Linked DNA regions of Homo sapiens: region 1 is linked to region 2. Evidence: fine-mapped expression QTL. A gene starts in region 2. The other region holds a variant in brackets. All regions are shown on one strand. Distances are from middle to middle.

The links.
Region 1: its variant is fine-mapped to the expression of RHPN1 in whole blood (TOPMed, PIP above 0.99).

What each region holds. Positions count from the first base shown.
Region 1 is chr8:143,322,452-143,330,889 of GRCh38, forward strand. It overlaps TOP1MT (DNA topoisomerase I mitochondrial), which reads right to left. Exons shown (of 14, transcript NM_052963.3): 3 at 6,899-7,020; 4 at 3,771-3,893; 5 at 2,895-3,082; 6 at 2,034-2,178; 7 at 1,548-1,691. Among named protein-coding and RNA genes, the nearest start is that of TOP1MT, 8.2 kb to the right of the region's middle. RefSeq lists enhancers at 1-607, 608-1,269. The variant C/T (reference allele first, on the strand shown) is at 3,484.
Region 2 is chr8:143,364,551-143,373,586 of GRCh38, forward strand. RHPN1 (rhophilin Rho GTPase binding protein 1) reads left to right here and starts at 4,326. Exons shown (of 15, transcript NM_052924.3): 1 at 4,326-4,497. The coding sequence starts at 4,438. It overlaps RHPN1-AS1 (RHPN1 antisense RNA 1), which reads right to left and starts at 4,085. Exons shown (of 1, transcript NR_026785.1): 1 at 2,073-4,085. RefSeq lists enhancers at 3,284-3,839, 4,580-5,487, 5,488-6,394 and silencers at 4,003-4,072, 4,083-4,542, 4,743-4,792.

The DNA.
Region 1 (8,438 bases), 42 kb before region 2:
AGGCATGCCACACAGGCACGCCACACAGGCACGCCACACGCACGCCACACACACAGGCACGCCACACAACAGGCACGCCAAAGATGCACGCCACACACACGCACGCCACACACAGACACGCCACACACATGCACGCCACACACATGCAGGCCACACACATGCATGCCACACAGGCACGTCACACACACACGCCACACGCACACCACACACGCACGCCACACACGCACGCCACACACGCACGCCACACGCACGCCACACGCACGCCACACACAGGCACGCCACACACGCCACACACGCACGCACGCCACACACGCACGCCACACACAGGCACGCCACACACATGCACACACACATGCATGCCACACACAGGCACGCCACACACGCACACCACACACGCACGCAACACACACGCACGCCACACGCACGCAACACACGCACGCCACACGCACGCCACACACGCACGCCACACACGCACGCCACACACAGGCACGCCACACACGCCACACACGCACGCCACACACGCACGCACGCCACACACGCACGCCACACACAGGCACGCCACACACATGCACACACACACATGCACGCCACACAGGCACGCCACACACAGGCACACCACACACGCACGCCACACACAGGCATGCCAAACACGCACGCCACACATGCACGCCACACACACAGGCACACCACACACAGGCACGCCACACAGGCACGCCACACACACAGGCACGCCACACACGCATGCCACACACAGGCACGCCACACAGGCACGCCACACACAGGCACGCCACACACACAGGCACGCCACACACATGCACGCCACACACGCACGCCACACACGCACGCCACACACATGCTCACCACACGCACGCCACACACATGCACGCCACACACATGCACGCCACACCCACAGGCACGCCACACAGATGCATGCCACACACACAGGCACGCCACACACGCACGCCACACACACAGGCACGCCACACACGCACGCCACACGCACGCCACACACATGCTCACCACACACGCACGCCACACACATGCACGCCACACAGGCACGCCACACACACATGCACGCCACACACATGCTCACCACACACGCACGCCACACACATGCACGCCACACACACAGGCACGCCACACACACACGCACGCCACACACACAGGCACGCCACACACGCACGCCACACGCACGCCACACACATGCTCACCACACACGCACGCCACACACATGCACGCCACACACACAGGCACACCACACACATGCACGCCACACACACATGCACGCCACACACATGCACGCCCCACACAGACATGCCACACACAGGCACACCACACGCACAAGTGCACACACACCACACAATGCACATGCACACCCTACACACATGTTCACACCCACACACGTGTGCACATGCACACACCCCCCCCATCAGAATGAGGTTCCACCCCACACACAGGCCCACGTCGCCACACTGCACCATCCAACTGGGAGTCCTCGCCAGGAGAACCAGGATGAAGAGCCGCCAGGAAGCGAGAAGGCCGCATACCTTATCGATGAAATACAGGGCCACCGCCCGCTGTCTCGTCTTCATTTCCCGAGACTTCCAGTCAGCCCGGTACTGGGAGCGGATCTCGTCCACAAATCCCCGCAGGCGTCGAGCTGTTTCAAACTTCTGCCAAGCTGTCTCCCCCTAAACGAAGAAAATAACAGGAAAGAAAACATTCACATTCCTGTTAAATAACGGAGGAGGCTGTCAACTCTCCCTCCCCCAAACCTCGTGCTTCTCCACTCAGTGGTGCCGTGGTCAGGGGCTGGGGCAGCAAATCTAGCTGGGTGATGCCGGCAGTGAGCACCCATGCCCACTCCTGGCTTTGGGGCTTGTGCCTGCTGGCACAGCATGACCTCAGCACGGGCTGGCCGACTCCCAGCCCATCTCAGAAGCCTCTGCCGGTGCCCGGCTTACACACCTCCCTGCCGGCGTCCTCAGGGGGACCTCCTGGGGAGGAAACACCCTGCCAAGCCCTGCGCTCACCTTCAGCTTCGAGCAAGGGTTCAGCATGATGTACTTGATGGAGTTCTGAACGCTCTCGGTCCAAGCTGCCAGCCACGTGACGGTGTTATCGGAGCGCACCTCCTTCCACTGGTGCCCCGCCGGCGGCTCGGGGATCTTCGAGTCCCTGCAGCAGAACAACGACCCAAACATAACTTGGAGACCTTATTCTCTGGAATGCAAGCAAAAGGAGCTGCTCTGGTCAACCGTCCCACGTGGTGGCTATGGTGGTGGCATGGCTCCTGACCGAGTCTGGCATCAGAGGTGGCCTGCCTGGCAGCTCAGACAAAAGCAGCCACTCAATCTACCCTCTGCACACACAGGAAGGCCACAGTGCACCAGGAGGCTGGGCGGCCACCCAAGCAAGGCACCGCTCTGCACAGACCTCTCAGCACCAACTGGGACGACGAGTGCCCTGCCCCACACAGCCTGGCCACTGGGGGTCCTGCAGGCAGGGTCCCTACTCCACCCTGTGGTCACACAGTACAACATGTGGCCCAGCAGTCCCCTCTCCACCACTTGGAATGTCCCTCCAATAAGTTCAAAACACCTAATGCTACTGGGCCATCCAGATGGTGTGGGATATGAAAACCACATGGAGGTGTCCTTGGCGGGAGAAAGTCTCAGCCATAGCAAGGCGAGGACTTCCGACCCCGTGGGAAGCACCCTGGGAAGGCCGCCCTTGCCCGGCCACGCCTACAGGCTGAGCTCCACAGGAATGGTGTGGGGGTCACCAACCACATGTTTCTCGGTGTGCCTCCCTCTCCCAGGAGGTGAAGAAAAGCCAGCCTCACCCGGGTGGCGGGGGTCCAGTGCCCGCCTGCTGCCCGCCCGGCCACGCACCTGCTGCAGTTGATAACCACATCCTCTGGCGTGATCCTTCTCTTCAGCATCCCCATCTTGGGATGGTCGCCACGGCCACGGAACAAGCCAGGCGGCTCAATCTTGAAGTTGCCTATTTTTTCTTGGTGACCATCTAAAATACAGTAGCCGAACTCTTGCTGAAGTTTTTCTGCCTCTTCTTTTAGCTTCTGAGTTAATAAAACAGTCAGTGGACATTAGCAGTGAAGAGAAGAGAACAGGCCTCAGTCCGTTGTTGCTAACCCGGGACCACCCTGCTCTGTCTGGCTAACTCAGCTGGACCCTCAAAGCCCTTCACAATCCATGGAGGTTGCAGGGGCAGGGGACAGTGCAGGTGGGCTTGCAGGGGGCACCGAGAGCCATGGCCTAACCACCCCATGGCCTGGACTCCCCGGCCCCTGCACAGACTTCGGCTGTTTTAGGCCTAAGCAGTAAAGCCAGGTGGAGGGAGCGTGGCTGCCCGCCATGGAGGAGGAGGGCTAAGGGAATCCCTGAGAAGGCCACATGGAGATCACAGCACGGCAGGTTCCTGTTAGATGTAGGGAGACGCATGGCACAGAACAGCAAGAAG[C/T]CGACTGGCCTGCACAAGCCCCGCCCTCAGCCCACGGCCCGTCTGGGAACCCACCCTTGATCAATGATGGTAAATTATCCATTTCAAACCGGGTTTACTCTCAAATGTGCTCTGGGGAAGCGGAACGACACTTAAGCACATGCAGGGGCGCTAAGGCTGACGAGAAAAGAGCAGCTTTGTGAGAAGGGGCTTCTCTAAGGCCACAGGCCTTTCTCAGTCTTTGGGCCAGGCCGGCCTCTCGTTCCCAGGGGCCACTTCAGGTCACACAACGCTCGAGGCAGCCCAACCTGCTTCTCCTCCCTGCTCAGGACTTTCCGGGCTGCGGCCTTGTCCACAAAGTATCTGTGGATCTCCGTGAAGTCACACTTGTCCAGGCTCTTGATGACTTCCCTCTCTTCCACCGCCATTTCCTGCAAAAACCACAGACACGCGCTCTCACCATGTCTGAAGGACAGACATGCAGAGCGCTCTCGCCATGTCTGACGGACAGAAACGCGCTCTCGCCATGTCCGACGGAGGCGTGTGTGCAATAGGCAGAACCTGCGCACGGTCCTGCGGCCCCGTAAATAGAGCCTCTCCCCGCAGACCCCACAGATAGAGCTGGTTCTGTTATTGCAGGCATGGAGTTGGGTGGGGCAGCGGAGGGCACAGTTCTCCAAAAGCAACTTCACAACAAGTCAGTAGTAAAACTGGCTAAAACCTTTGCACCCAATAATTCCACTTTGAGATCCATCCTAAATAAACTCTCCAGTATGAAAACCCGGATGACGACCGCACTAAGGGCAACTGCAGAAACGTCATGACCGGACAGAGCAGGATACATGGTCGGGAGCTCATCTGGTGAACGTGACGGGATTCGCGAGGGCAAAGTCTCAGTCCATACGTGCTGCTGCCACAAAATACCGGGGACTGGTCAGTTGTAAATCATAGTCACAGCTCTGGGGGCTGGAAGGCTGGGATCAGGGTCCCAGCATTTGACGTCTATGGAGGGCCCAGTCCCTGCTTCTGAGAGGATGCCCTGAAGGCTGTCCTCACACAGTGGAGGGGACAGAAGGACAGAAGGGGCCCAGCTAATTCCACCCAGCCCTGCCCTAAGGCCCTAAATTAATCCTAAGGGCTGCAGCAAGGTGGAGTCCTCACAGCCCAATCAGCTCCTAAAGGCCCTCCCTCTGTCCTGTGGTGCTGGGGATTCAGTTTCAAGGTGAATTTTGGAAAGCACAGCAGAAAACAGTTTGACGATGATCTACCCGTGTGGAGACTAAGCGGGATAAAATGCTAAGTGGGGAAAACATTACAGGCACACTGATCACACTCACACGAAAACTAGTGCCCAGGAAAAGCCAGGACGCGGGAACAGGAGACACTGACCTGAGGGAGAGCCGCAGATCACAGGCAACTGTTTCTCCTTTCGTTTCCTACACAACAAAAACTCTGCACAGCCCATGGACAAAAGCCCAGGCTTGCGGGCACCAGCTCACGGTCCCAGTCCAGGCTCGGCCACTTAGGCCTGTGAGACCTCAGGAGCTGCTGTCAAACGTGTCTCGCTGTGGGATGGGGATGATCCGCCTCTTCCGAGGAGCTCAGGTACGACACCATCTGTGCCAGGATGGAGCCCTGCTCGGCCACAACCACGGGCTCAGGGTCCGTCCCTGTGTCTCCCGGGGCCGCCGGATGTGCCACCCACTCCTGTTCTGCTGCTTTGTGACACTGCCTCCCTTCCTAGCTCTGCTAGTGACTGGAAGAAGTGCTGACCAGAGGGAGAATGAGGATGCCGGGCAGCTGGTGCCACCTCACAAAGCTGTCGTGAAAGGCAGAGGGGTGGCATCAGGCCAAAGAAGAGGGTCCAGAAGCGGAGCCTGCACAGGGGACAAGGAAGCACAGGCTCCAGCAGCTGGCTCGGGGCAGTCAGACACCCACATGCAACACACGAGCCTCGGCCTCTACCCCACACTATAACCAAAATTAACTCAGAGTTCCACCTAAACCAAGCTGACCTCAATGGAAACCTAAAACCAAAACTTCTAGGAAAAACATAGGAGGAAATCTCTGTGCTGCCGAATTCAGCAGATTTCTTAGACAAAACAACAAAAGCAAACCTGTGACAAAACATGAAACGTGGGACCTCATCAGTATTCCAAACTCCTGACCTTCCAAAGACATTGTTAAGAGAACGCAAATAGAAACTACAAACACCATGAAAGATTTTTGCAAATCATATTTCTGATAATGGACTTAAAACAGGACACAAAAGTACTCACCATAAAAGACAGATTGATAAACGGCATAACTAAGTTACAGTTTTCTGTTTGGAGACCTCACTGAGAAGTGAAAAGGCAAAGTCTGGGAGATGACATTCACAGCATGTGCGTCTGGCAAAGAACCTGCACCCAGGATGCGTTTTTAAAACTCCGATAAATGAGCGAGGAATACGCAAGCAACTCAGTTTTTTAAATAGACAAAAGTTCACGAAAGAAAATACTGAAATGACACGTCAGTACACCAAAAGATGCTTAATATCACTTGTCATTAGGGAAACGCAAACCACACCCACGGCGAGGTGTCATTTTGTGCCCACTAGAAAGGTGCCTCGCACCCGCGGCAGGCGTGTGGACAGTTCAGCCTGGTGTTGCTAGTAAGCTGGACACACGTGACCCAGCAATTTCACCCCAAGTCCTGTCAGAGGCAACTCACACATATGTGCCCTCACCCACGTGGGAATGTTCATGGCAGCTTTACACATGCAAAGGCCTAAAACAGGAATTAATCAAACACCCACGAATAGGGAAATGGACTAGCATGAGTCACGGAACAGAGGAAACGCGACCCGGCCAGAGCCAGGAAGATGCTGCGGGACAAGCAGTCAGGGGCGAGCCTCGCAGGTGTGGGGCAGACAGAAACCCCGGAGGGCACAGAATCCGCGGCACACACATAAAATCAGTCAGGCCATGGGCGAAGGGCAGTCACCTTGAAAATGAGCAAGGAAAAAGCCTTGAGGCAGCACCCTCCCCTCCAAAGAGCTTCTCGCCAAGCATGTCTTCCTGGGGGCTGGGAAATGGCATGCGGCCTCCTCTACTCTCCTTCTTATATGCCAGACCCCTGTCCTTTCAGCGGTCCATGGAGTAAGGACCACAAATCGGCCTCCACATCCACAGCCTGCCTGGGAAGGGAAAGGTCTGAGGTGCACTAGGCTGGACACACTGGCACCGCCTATGGTCCCAGCTACTCAGGAGGCCGAGACAGGAGGATGGCTTGAGCCCAGGAGCTCGAAGCTGCAAAGAGCCATGACGGCACCTGTGAGTGGTCACACAGGGGCCACCGAGAACTTGCGAGGGGCGTTCAGAGGCAGCACTGCAGAACCGCAGACGCCTAGCCAGCCAGGTCCAGGACAGCTGTGGCGGCCGCCCAGGGTACCTACCTTTCGCCAGTCATTGAAGAAGTTCTTCCGGAAAACCTCCTTTGTTGTGTATTCATGATCTAACATCCTCCCATAAAAAGTGGCGACCTCCTCCGCTGCCACGCTCAATCTCACAGGCCTTCCTGCAGGCATCGGAAGACACATCGTATGAGAGAGCGGCCAGAGGCTCGGCCTCCAGCTGACATGACCTCATTGCTTTAAACTACGCTTTCGTGCGTACTATGCCAAGAGCAAGAAGCTAGGCCTTCTTCTGTAAGTTCAGAAGCATGTTCTGCATGACACACGACAATCAACCTGCGTGGAGGTGGCGACCACAGTGATCTGGGAGCGGGTCGTGAGAAAGCTGCAGAAGATTTCAGGCGCTACTGCTTTCTCCTCCTTTACCACTTAACGTTGCTACTACATTTATATTACATGAAAATGGAACATGTACAATTTTAAAACACACCAATTTCCACAAAATTTCACAAGTAAAATAAAAGTTAAGGCTTCAAAGCAGAAAACTGAATAACTAGGTGTACCCTTTTACAACTCTGCGGCCTCTGTCCCACCATTCCCTGCATTTTATTCTAAGATCAGTGTGGTTTAGAGATGGGGGGTGAGCTGGGAGCAGGCGAGCAGAGTGAGAGGCTCGTGGTGGGAACGAGGGTGTTCACCAGGAATTCTTTCAACTGCACGTCTGAAAAGCTTTCATAAGAAAATTTTAGAGAAATAAATGCATAATCATTTGGTAAGAAGGAGGAAGGCATTTCTGATAAACAGCAGCAATCCTTCCCCAAACTAGCTTCTCAGGACAGAGGACGAGAGGCCCAGAGACCAGCAGCACAGGCCCGAGGGGCTCAGCTCCCACTGCCCCTCTGTGGAGGCTCGGCCCCACTGGGCCCCACGCGACACCACCACTCCCCGGACTGTCCACCATGGCCCTGCATAAGCAGTCCTCGCCTGCCATGTCCCTCCTGGCCAGGGAGGTCCTGCAGGGCTGCTGTGGGGCAGGCGAGGCAGCCGCTACACCAGGCCAGGGGCACAGCGCGAGACGCTCAGTAAGGTCCCATGGCCTCCCGTGGGCAGCCCCCACAGACACAGCTAGAACCTCTGTCCCTGTGGAAGCTCCAGTACCGCTTTGGAGAAACAGGCTTTGAACAAAACATTGCATCAAAGGAGCTCAGCAAACTCAGGTGTGCATGTGACTCGGCAGGGGGCCCACGGGAGGGCTGGTGGGAGGGGCACAGCATGGCGTGGGGGCCTGCCCTGGGGGAGAAGAGGTTTGCTTTTCTTAGAAGGATGCCTTCTAGCAGAGATGAAGAAAATAGGCTGAAGCAGCTAAAATCAGCAGCACAAGAGCCAAGCCAAAGCTCCTGGGCCCTGGGGTAGAGAGGAGGGCTCAAGGGCAGGAGGGGTGTGTGGGCCCTGCTGCCCCAGAGCCCCCGGGTCCTGCCTCTGAGGGTGGCTCAGCGCTCATGTCAACCACGGGCTCCGCTTCTTGCTGAGAATCACAAGCTGGGGTCAAGTGACCGTTCTGTGATCCATGTGTGTACACGCA
Region 2 (9,036 bases):
CCTTCTACCATGCTCCCGGCAAGCTAATGTTCTCAGTGGCTCTTTTTTTTTTTTAACAACTCTTATTTTCAAATAAGAATAAATATGTGTGTCTGTTCTCTGGGGGTTTAGGCAGCCCCGAGCTGACCCTGTGACTGGGGAGGGATTGATGGCCCCGTCTCACCGGGAAGCCAGGTGCATCTTTTACTAAAGGTGGTTTCTGAATGATGAATGGCTTTCTCACGAACATAACACTGTTGATTGTATTTACAAACAATTCATTTTCACGTTCTGTTGATTCTGCCCCAGCCGTCCCTCCTGTTGCCTCCACAGATGATGCATTGGTGGCTATTACCACCATTGATGAAGGCGTCCTGCTCGCCCTGTGGTACCTGTTACTCCATTCATCACAGTTGAGCAGCCTGCGTGCAGCGGGAGAGCGTGTTCTCTTCGGGCCTTGCAGTTATTTATCCTTGAATTTGTGTGGGTTTGTGCACCTCTAAATACAGGTGCAAACCCACACTCCAAGATCTTAACAGGCGCAACAGTGGCCAAAATACACGGCCAGTTAAATTCTTGGGGTTTAGCCAGTCCCCCAAAGCCCACCTCTTCCACTCCACATTCTAAAAAAATACCGATGCGCATAAACAGTGTCAGCAACCTCCACTAATTAAGGCTTCCAACCAGAAGGAAAGCTGAAGTAAGTACCAGCGATCAGCATCAAATCATCAACTTTTAGGGCTGACCTAAAAGACCCCAAGCCTGAATGCCCCAGCACCCACTGGGCAAGGGGCAGCCAGTCCCCAGCATGGCCTAATCCAGGCCAAGCAGGAAATTTCTGGAATCAGCTGCTTTTTCCACATTTCTCTATCTAGACCCCCTCCTCCTGGCTGCCTCTCTGGTTCAGTGGTGGCGTTCCCCTGAGCTTGACCGGGCTCTGCAGATGGGCTGGCATGCATGGAAGAAGCTGGCGCTGTGAGGAGTCCTGGCTTCCCGCTCACAGCCATTGGGCCTTGGGTGAGTCAGTCAGTCTCTCCAGACCTTGAGGTCTTCACCCAGGACATGTGGAGGCTCAGAAAGGAGCCCAGGTTCCTGCCCATCTGGAAAATCTGCATGTTCCTGGTTGCAGCAAGAGTCTGCCAGGCTCACACTTGCAAAGTACTGGTCCATATAAAAGCATAAAGCAGGCCAGGCACAGCGGCTCACACCTGTAATCCCAGCACTTTGGGAGGCCAAGGTGGGCCAATTGCTTGAGCCCAGAGTTTGAGACAAGCCTGGGCAACATAGCGAGACCCCATCTCTACAAAAAATACAAAAGTTATCTGGATGTGGTGGCGCATGCAAGCGGTCCCTGCTACTTGGGAGACCGAGGTGGGAGGATTGCCTGAGCCTAGGAGGTTGAGGCTGCAGTGAAGTGAGCTGTGATCACACCACTGCACTCCAGCCTGGGCGACAGAGAGCCACCCTGTCTCAAAAAAAAAAAAAAAGGCCAGTCACAGTGGCTCACACCTATAATCCCAACACTTTGGGAGGCCAAGGCAGGCAGATCACTGGAGCTCAGAAGTTCAAGACCAGCCTGGGCAACAGGGCGAAACCCTGTCTCAATTTTTTTTTCTTTATAAATTACAAAAGAGAAAACGAGCATAAAGCAGCCCCATCAGCAATTATCACCTCATCTGCAAAAGGTCCCGGCGCTCACTGCCGTGCCCCTCCCGCCGCTGTCCAGTTCCCTGCCTGTCACACCAAAATTCTCCTCTACTTTCTCACCTCCCATCCTTTCATTTTTCCCCCTAAATTTTTAAACTTCAGAAGTGCACAATACACATGTAACAAACCCACACATGTACCTCCAAATCTAAAATAATTTAAAAAAACAAAAAGGAAACTCTAAATTTTTTGAGTGCAGTGATACATTCTTGCTGTGCCAAATCCAGTAACACAGAAGCATGCAAAGAAAAAGGCAGCACCACCCCCCTCCAACACACACACACACACACACACACGCACACACGCACATATGCACGCACACACACGCACACGCACACACGCACACGCACACACTCCAGCCTGGGCGACAAGAGCAAGACTCCATCTCAATAAATAAATAAAGAAAATAGTAATTGAATATTTTCCTTCAGGAAACAGCACCCTGCAGGGAGGGGAAGTCTTATGACCCTCAAAGTTTGAGAGCCTCTCTTAACTTCCCAATGGCCTCTGTCTGCTGAACCAAGAAGCCTGCAAAACAAATACGTAAGAACTGGATACCATTTCAGTCACACATGCTTGCTGACAGTCACTGATATGGTAATGCCTCCTGTACACATAGCTGACTCTGAAGACTGCTAAGAGGGTTTGGGTCTCTGCTGTACAGGACCTTGGCAGCCTGCAAGGAGATGACTCACATGGAAGTCCCCACACAAGTGCACCCAGTGTGAACTTTGGAAGCATCGGCCCATGCTCAGGCCCACAGGTAAGATGGCCAGGAGCCCCTAACCTTGAGGAAACTTGAACCACAGAGCTGCTGGCGAAGGGGGTGGGTGAAGGTCTCATGTAGCCTGTGTGATTCAGGCAGAAGTGAGAAGGACGGGTGGGAACCCACCAAGTGGACGACAAGCTGAAGGGCTCCCAGGGAGCAGACACTTCAAGGGCCCCAAAAGGCCAGGAGAAAGAAAAAAAAAAGCCGGGTATGGTGGCTCATCCCTGTAATCCAGCACTTTTGGGAGGTTGAGGCAGATGAATTGCTTGAGCCCAGAAGTTTGAGACCAGCCTGGGCCTGGGCAATGTGGCGAAACCCTGTCTCTACAAAATATACAAAAATTAGCCGGGTGTGGTGGTGCAAGCCTGTAGTCCCAGCTATTCAGGAGGCTGAGGTGGGAGGATCACATGAGCCCAGGAGGTGGAGGCTGCAGTGAGCTGTGATCGTACCACTGCACTCCGGCCTGGGGAACAGAGTGAGGCCCTGTCTCAAAAGGCCAGGAGTGGAAGACAGGCCCTAGCCAGGAGGTTTCGCGTGGCTGGCAGGGGCCTTATGAGAAGGCTGTTGCTGGGAGGGGCCTGCTGCAGATGGCTGCGGCAGACCACGGAGCTTAGCCTTCAGGATTTAGATCTGGGGATGACAGGCTCCTGTGTGCTTGTTGCGGAGCCGGGAGCACAGGCACCAGAATGATCCCAGGGCTCAGCTCCAAGGCTCCGCTGGGCCTGTGGTGGGGCAGTGAACGTGGACAAGACCTGGGCTTCAGAGGAACTTGATGACCAGGAGCCGTGGTTACCGCCTGTGCCCTGGCCTTCCTGCTCTTCAAAGGGTGTGTTCTGAGCTGAGGCGAGACCCACACGAAATCCGAGCGGGCTCCGGAGTCACCAGACACCTAGGGAAGTATGGAAGGCCCGGAAGGACACACACAGCCGGGTGAGCCCCGCAGGGAGCTGTGCAGTCTCAGGTCGTCCAGTCCTGGGGCTGCAGGCCAGTTCTCCAAGCAGGTGGTCCTGGAGGCAAGCTGGTTTTGAAAGTAGGTTCTGAAAATAGGTCAGTCCAGGAAACAAGCTCTGGAAGTAAAGAGATTCGGAAAGCAGGTTCGTTCTGGAAACAAGTTCTACAAACAGGTAGTTCTGAAAGCACGTGGGTTCCAGAGGCAGGTGCTAGAAGGATGTGGGTTCTGTACGGAGGTTCTGGAGGGAGGCGGGTTCTGGACGGAGGTTCTGGAAGGAGGCGGGTTCTGGAGGCCGGTTTTGGAAGCAGGACGACACCGACAGAGGCGCCTCGGACTGGGGCCAGGCCTGGAGCCTCCGCTCCGCGGGCAGAGAGAAGAAAGCAGGCATTGTCGGAGGACTCACACAAGCACTTGTCCCTAACAAAACCGTTTTTAAAAACCCCATTGTGAACATTTTTGGAACAAGCCTCTTAGAGGGTCCCGTTGCCGGGGTGACAGGACGAAACGGCGCGAGCGGGCAGACTCCTGGAGTCCCCGCAAAGGGAGCCGAGGAGCTAGGCGCGCCGAGTCCAGGTCCGCCCTGACTCTCAGCTTGGGACGTTCCGTATAGTTTTTTTCTCCGTTTCCCGAACTTCTCCCGCACGCTCAGCGGCCGCCGCGGCGCATGCGCAGTACAACCTGCCAGCCAGCCGCGGGCGTTCCGGCCGCGGTTGCCAGGGGTTACCGTCCCGCGGGCGGGCGGAGCTGGCCGTCCAGAGCCCGCCTTCCTGGAACTCTGGTTGGCTGATATAGCTGTCCGTCGAAGCGGCATTGCCGCCTATTGGGCAATGGCCAGCTTCGCACGCCAGACCCGTGCCCCGCCCAGCCGCGCCGCGGGCCGCCCCCACTCAGGAGGGACAGTCGGGGACCGGCGCGGGCACTCAGGAGCCCGCGGCCCAGGTGGTGCGGGCGGCCCTAGCCCGGCTGCGGAGCGCTGCGCGAGCGGCGGGCTGGCTGACCCCGAGGGACCCCCAGCGCAGCGGGTGCGGCGATGATCCTGGAGGAGAGGCCGGACGGCGCGGGCGCCGGCGAGGAGAGCCCGCGGCTGCAGGTGCGCAGAACTGGCGCGGCGGCGGGAGGAGGGGCCCGGAATCCCGGCCTTTTCCTGCCCCCCCTCGAGGCGCGTTCCGGGCGCCCCCCTCCTACGTCTCATTCGGCCCGGACGCAGGCAGGGAAACTGAGGCCAGAGCCTGCGTCCCTCCTCCTCTGAGCTCGGTGGAGGTGCTTCCAGGCCACTCATGTGAGCCGGGAAATGCGGACAGCCAAAGTCTGGATCATCCTCACCGCTGAAGCGGGTTGGGGGGACGCCCTCCTCGTGTCCCCCTTCTGGGCGGATGTGGGGCTGGGCTCTGTGAGCGCCCTCCCCACACCCGCCATCGTGTTCCTTTCCGGCACCTGTACAGCCTCCTTCCCTAGTTCGGTCCTCCCTCTGCATCCGCTCAGGAACTGCATGCCCATTGGGTGCACTGGTAGCAGCGGGCAGCGAAGCCTCCTGGGTATGGGAAACCGAGAGAGGTCTTCCCGGCTGGCCTCTTCTCACTTCCCAAACCTCCTTCCCTTCTGAAGTCCCTAACCCGGGGTGCTGACTGGGCAAGTGGGAGGGGTGGGCAGGGCTGTGGAGACCTGCTGAGTCTGTGCCTGGGAAGGAGGGGACGTCTGTGGGCCTTGCTCTGCAGCCCAGAGCCTGCTTGTTCCCTGCGGACCAGCTCGAGGCTGCCCCAGTCCTCCTGCCAGGCCCTGGGCGCCCACGCCCGCCACGGGCTTTCAGCCGCGGGCTGCTCCTGCTCCTCGCCCCGGGTGAGCCTTTGATAGCGCGCGGCCCTCCTCCCCTCTGGGACGTCAGACTGTGTTGTCCCTGGGCTGGTTCTACTCGGCTTTGGTGTTTGGGGTTAGGTCTCCTAGAGGAGGAGGCGGTGCTATCAGCCAGGGTTTGGCTTCAGGTCACTGGGCTGGTGATGCTGACCGTAGCCCTCAAGGACGCCCTTCTTGCCCACCCCGAGGCGTGCCAGAGGCTGCAGCACCTCCTGGGCACTGGAGGGAAAGAGGCAGCCTGTGCCTGCCCCCTATGAACTTGCTCTGTCAGGGCGGCCATGCCTGCAGGTGGCCTGGGACGGCACATGTTGTTTTGGGTGGAATGTTTGGGAGGCTGTACAAACAAGATGTCCCAGAGGGCTCCGGAGGTGACGCTTTTCAGGCTGGGGGCTGTGCCTGGGCTCCCTGTCCTGGCCCTCCCTGGGCTGCCACCTTGGAAAGTTGGGGAGAAGCTGTTTCCAGGCTGCCGTGTCTCTCACAGCGTCCAGAAATGACCCCACAGTCAGGGTACTGGGGAGGGGCCCGTGGGAGGTGGCAGTGGGGCGGAGGCAGGCCCTGTGTCACACGCGCACCACTCAGGCTGTCCTGCCATCTGGAAAGTCTTCCCCGATGCCTGCTGCCGGGCTAGAGTGAGGCCTGTTCCACCCCCATCAGGCTGGCCCCCAAACTGGCCCTAAAGCTCAGAGTTCAGTGGGTCAGGGGTCGGTCGTTCATCCACTTAGAGGCCACACCTGGGCCTGAGGCCCTGTGGACAGGTCTGGGTGACTTGTATTTGCCCCAGGCGTGATGAGAGCAGGCTTCCAGCAAGCGCTTACCTGGTGCCAGGGCCAGTGCTACAGCTGGAGTCCTGCCATTGGTGCCTCCCAAGCCCTGGGCCTCAGCCCGTCTGATGAACAGGGTGAGTAAGTGGCCAAGGCTGCCAAGCTGGGAAGGGGAGAAGCCTGGCACGGCCCAGGGTGGCCAACCCAGCTGCCGTCCCTCCCGCAGGGGCTGCAGGGGCTCCCGGGGGAGGACCACAAGGAATACAGCCTGGCTGTATGCAGAAGGTTCTGTGGTTTCCTGGGGAGGCCAGTGGGAGAAGGGGGAGCAGGCTGCAGAGGGAGAGCGTTGGAGCAGCAGGTGGGCAGGGTGGCTGTGCCCCCCTCACCTGGTCTCCAGCATGCCGAGTGGGTCAGCCTGAGGTTCCCCAGCCTGGCTGGACAGGAGCACCCTCTGGGTGCTGGTTACAGGTTCCCAGGCCCCTGCCCAGGTAGATTGGGCTCCAGGAAGAGGGGTGCTCAGGAAGCACCAGTGCCTGGGTACCCCAGGGAGCATCAGAGAGAGTGGGAGTCCCTGCCGTGAGTGGCCAGTCTATGATTCCTCTGGCGTGCGTGCTGCTTATAGCCCTGTGTCCCAGGAGACACCTGTGCAGCAATGCCCTTTGAATTCTGTTCCCTCATCAGTGGGGGGCAGAGATGGTGGGTCAGGTGGGTGCTGGGCTTCCACCCTCCTGGGGCTTCCAGTTCTTGCATTCAGGTGAGACTTCAGTGGGGGCAGAGGAGAGGGGTACCTGAGATGGGTGGCTGTCAGCATACAGGGTGCCCAGGGCCAGGGCTCTGAAGGGAAAAAGCTGGTTTGCTCCAGGTGGGTGACCTCTCCCTGGGGACTGCCTGGCCCAGGGCCAGGGGATCCTGGGGGAGAGTGGAGGTCTGGCCCTGCTCTGATGTTTTGCTGTTCCCAGACCTGGGCTGGGATAACTATCTCTGCCTTTTGCCCGTCCCCAGGTCAGCCCCACTCTGGCCAGGGCCACACTGTTTCCTCCTGGGCAGAGGAGCCCCAGTGTCAGGGTTGGGGGGCTGTTTCTCTGTTCTTCGTCCCTCTCCATCGAGGCATGGCCAGGCCCTTCATGTGTGGCTGCCTCTCGGGACCCCCACAGACCACAGCCTCTCTGTCCTTTCCTAATGCAAGGCGGAAATGGCCACAGTGGGGTGTCAGGGCACCGTGGACGTGGGGGTGGGGAGCTCCAGGTCACCTTTGTCTCCAGAGGGTGGGGAGGTTGTAGCAGGAGTAGGGGCCTGAACGCCTGTGTCTATGCCCCTTCCACTGGGCTCAACCTTCAACCCAGTGTGGAAAGTGGGGCATGGGCCGCCCACCTCCAAGGTCTACCCAGCCTCAAAGGTCCGGCTCGGGTCTGCTCCTCCGCCTGTAGGCCGGGAAGTCACTTGGCCTGCAGGGAGCACTGCGGGTAGGGAGGCCGAGGAATGGACCAGGCCCACAGCAGGTGCCTGTGGGGCTCCAAGGGGCCAGGCTCCCCGCAGCTCTCCTGGGGCCAGGAGGGGAGCAGGGACCTGGCTGGGTGTCTGATGCCCGTCGCACAGCCAGAGCCCTTAAAGCTGCTGGAGCCTTGCAGCGGGGCCTTTGCGGGGAGGGGGTGTAGCTGCGGTGGGTGGCACGGGGGTCTCCTAGGTACTGGGCAGAGGCCCTCGAGGTGGTAGCGCCGGTGGGAAAGGTAGGGATGGGAGGCGGGGGTGGGCGGGCCTCAGGTTCAGGGAGCTTCTCAGATCTGAGGCGCCCATGCCCCTCTCCCACCTGTGGGCCTCTCCAGCCCGAGTCCCTGAAGCAGCTCTGGAGGGAATTTCTTTTCTGGAGGAGGCGGGAGTGAGAAACGGGAGCAGGGTGAGGGTTCCCAAGTGCACATCGGCCCGTCCGCTGCTGGGTGGTGTCCACGGGGGCAGGGCTGGGCTGGGGGAGGCCAGGGTCCTGGGCCGGCACACCCTCCTTCCGGCTGCCTGTGTCCCTCCCTCCAGCTGCCTGTGTCCATCCCTCCGGCCGCCTGTGTCCCTCCCTCCGGCCCCTAAGCGCCAACTCATCTTCAGTTCAGGGACCTCCGTCAGGCTCCCTCACCCCAGCACTCAGCAGGAGGCTGCCGGCCTGGGTGTCCAGGGGATGGTGCGGGTGTCCAGCAGACAGTACAGGGGTTTGGGGGATGGTACAGGTGTCTGGGGGATGGCGTGGGTGTCCAGCAGATGGCGCAGGGGTTTGGGGGATGGCACAGGTGTCTGGGGGACAATGCGGGGGTTTGGGGGATGGCGTGGGTTCCAGGGGATGGTGCAGGGGCTTGGGGGATGGTGTGGGTTCCAGGGGACGGTGTGGGGGTTTGGGGATGGCGCGGGTTCCAGGGGACGGTGTGGGGGTTTGGGGATGGCGCGGGTTCCAGGGGATGGTGTGGGGGTTTGGGGATGGCGTGGGTTCCAGGGGACGGTGCGGGGGTTTGGGGATGGCGTGGGTTCCAGGGGACGGTGCGGGGGCTTGGGGGATGGTGTGGGTTCCAGGGGACGGTGTGGGGGTTTGGGGATGGCGTGGGTTCCAGGGGATGGTGCAGGGGCTTGGGGGATGGCGTGGGTTCCAGGGGATGGTGCGGGGGCTTGGGGGATGGTGTGGGTTCCAGGGGACGGTGTGGGGGTTTGGGGATGGCGCGGGTTCCAGGGGATGGTGTGGGGGTTTGGGGATGGCGTGGGTTCCAGGGGACGGTGTGGGGGTTTGGGGATGGCGCGGGTTCCAGGGGACGGGGCGGGGGCTTGGGGGATGGTGTGGGTTCCAGGGGACGGTGTGGGGGTTTGGGGATGGCGTGGGTTCCAGGGGACGGTGTGGGGGTTTGGGGATGGCGCGGGTTCCAGGGGACGGTGTGGGGGTTTGGGGATGGCGCGGGTTCCAGGGGACGGGGCGGGGGCTTGGGGGATGGTGTGGGTTCCAGGGGACGGGGCGGGGATTTGGGGGATGGCGTGGGTTCCAGGGGACG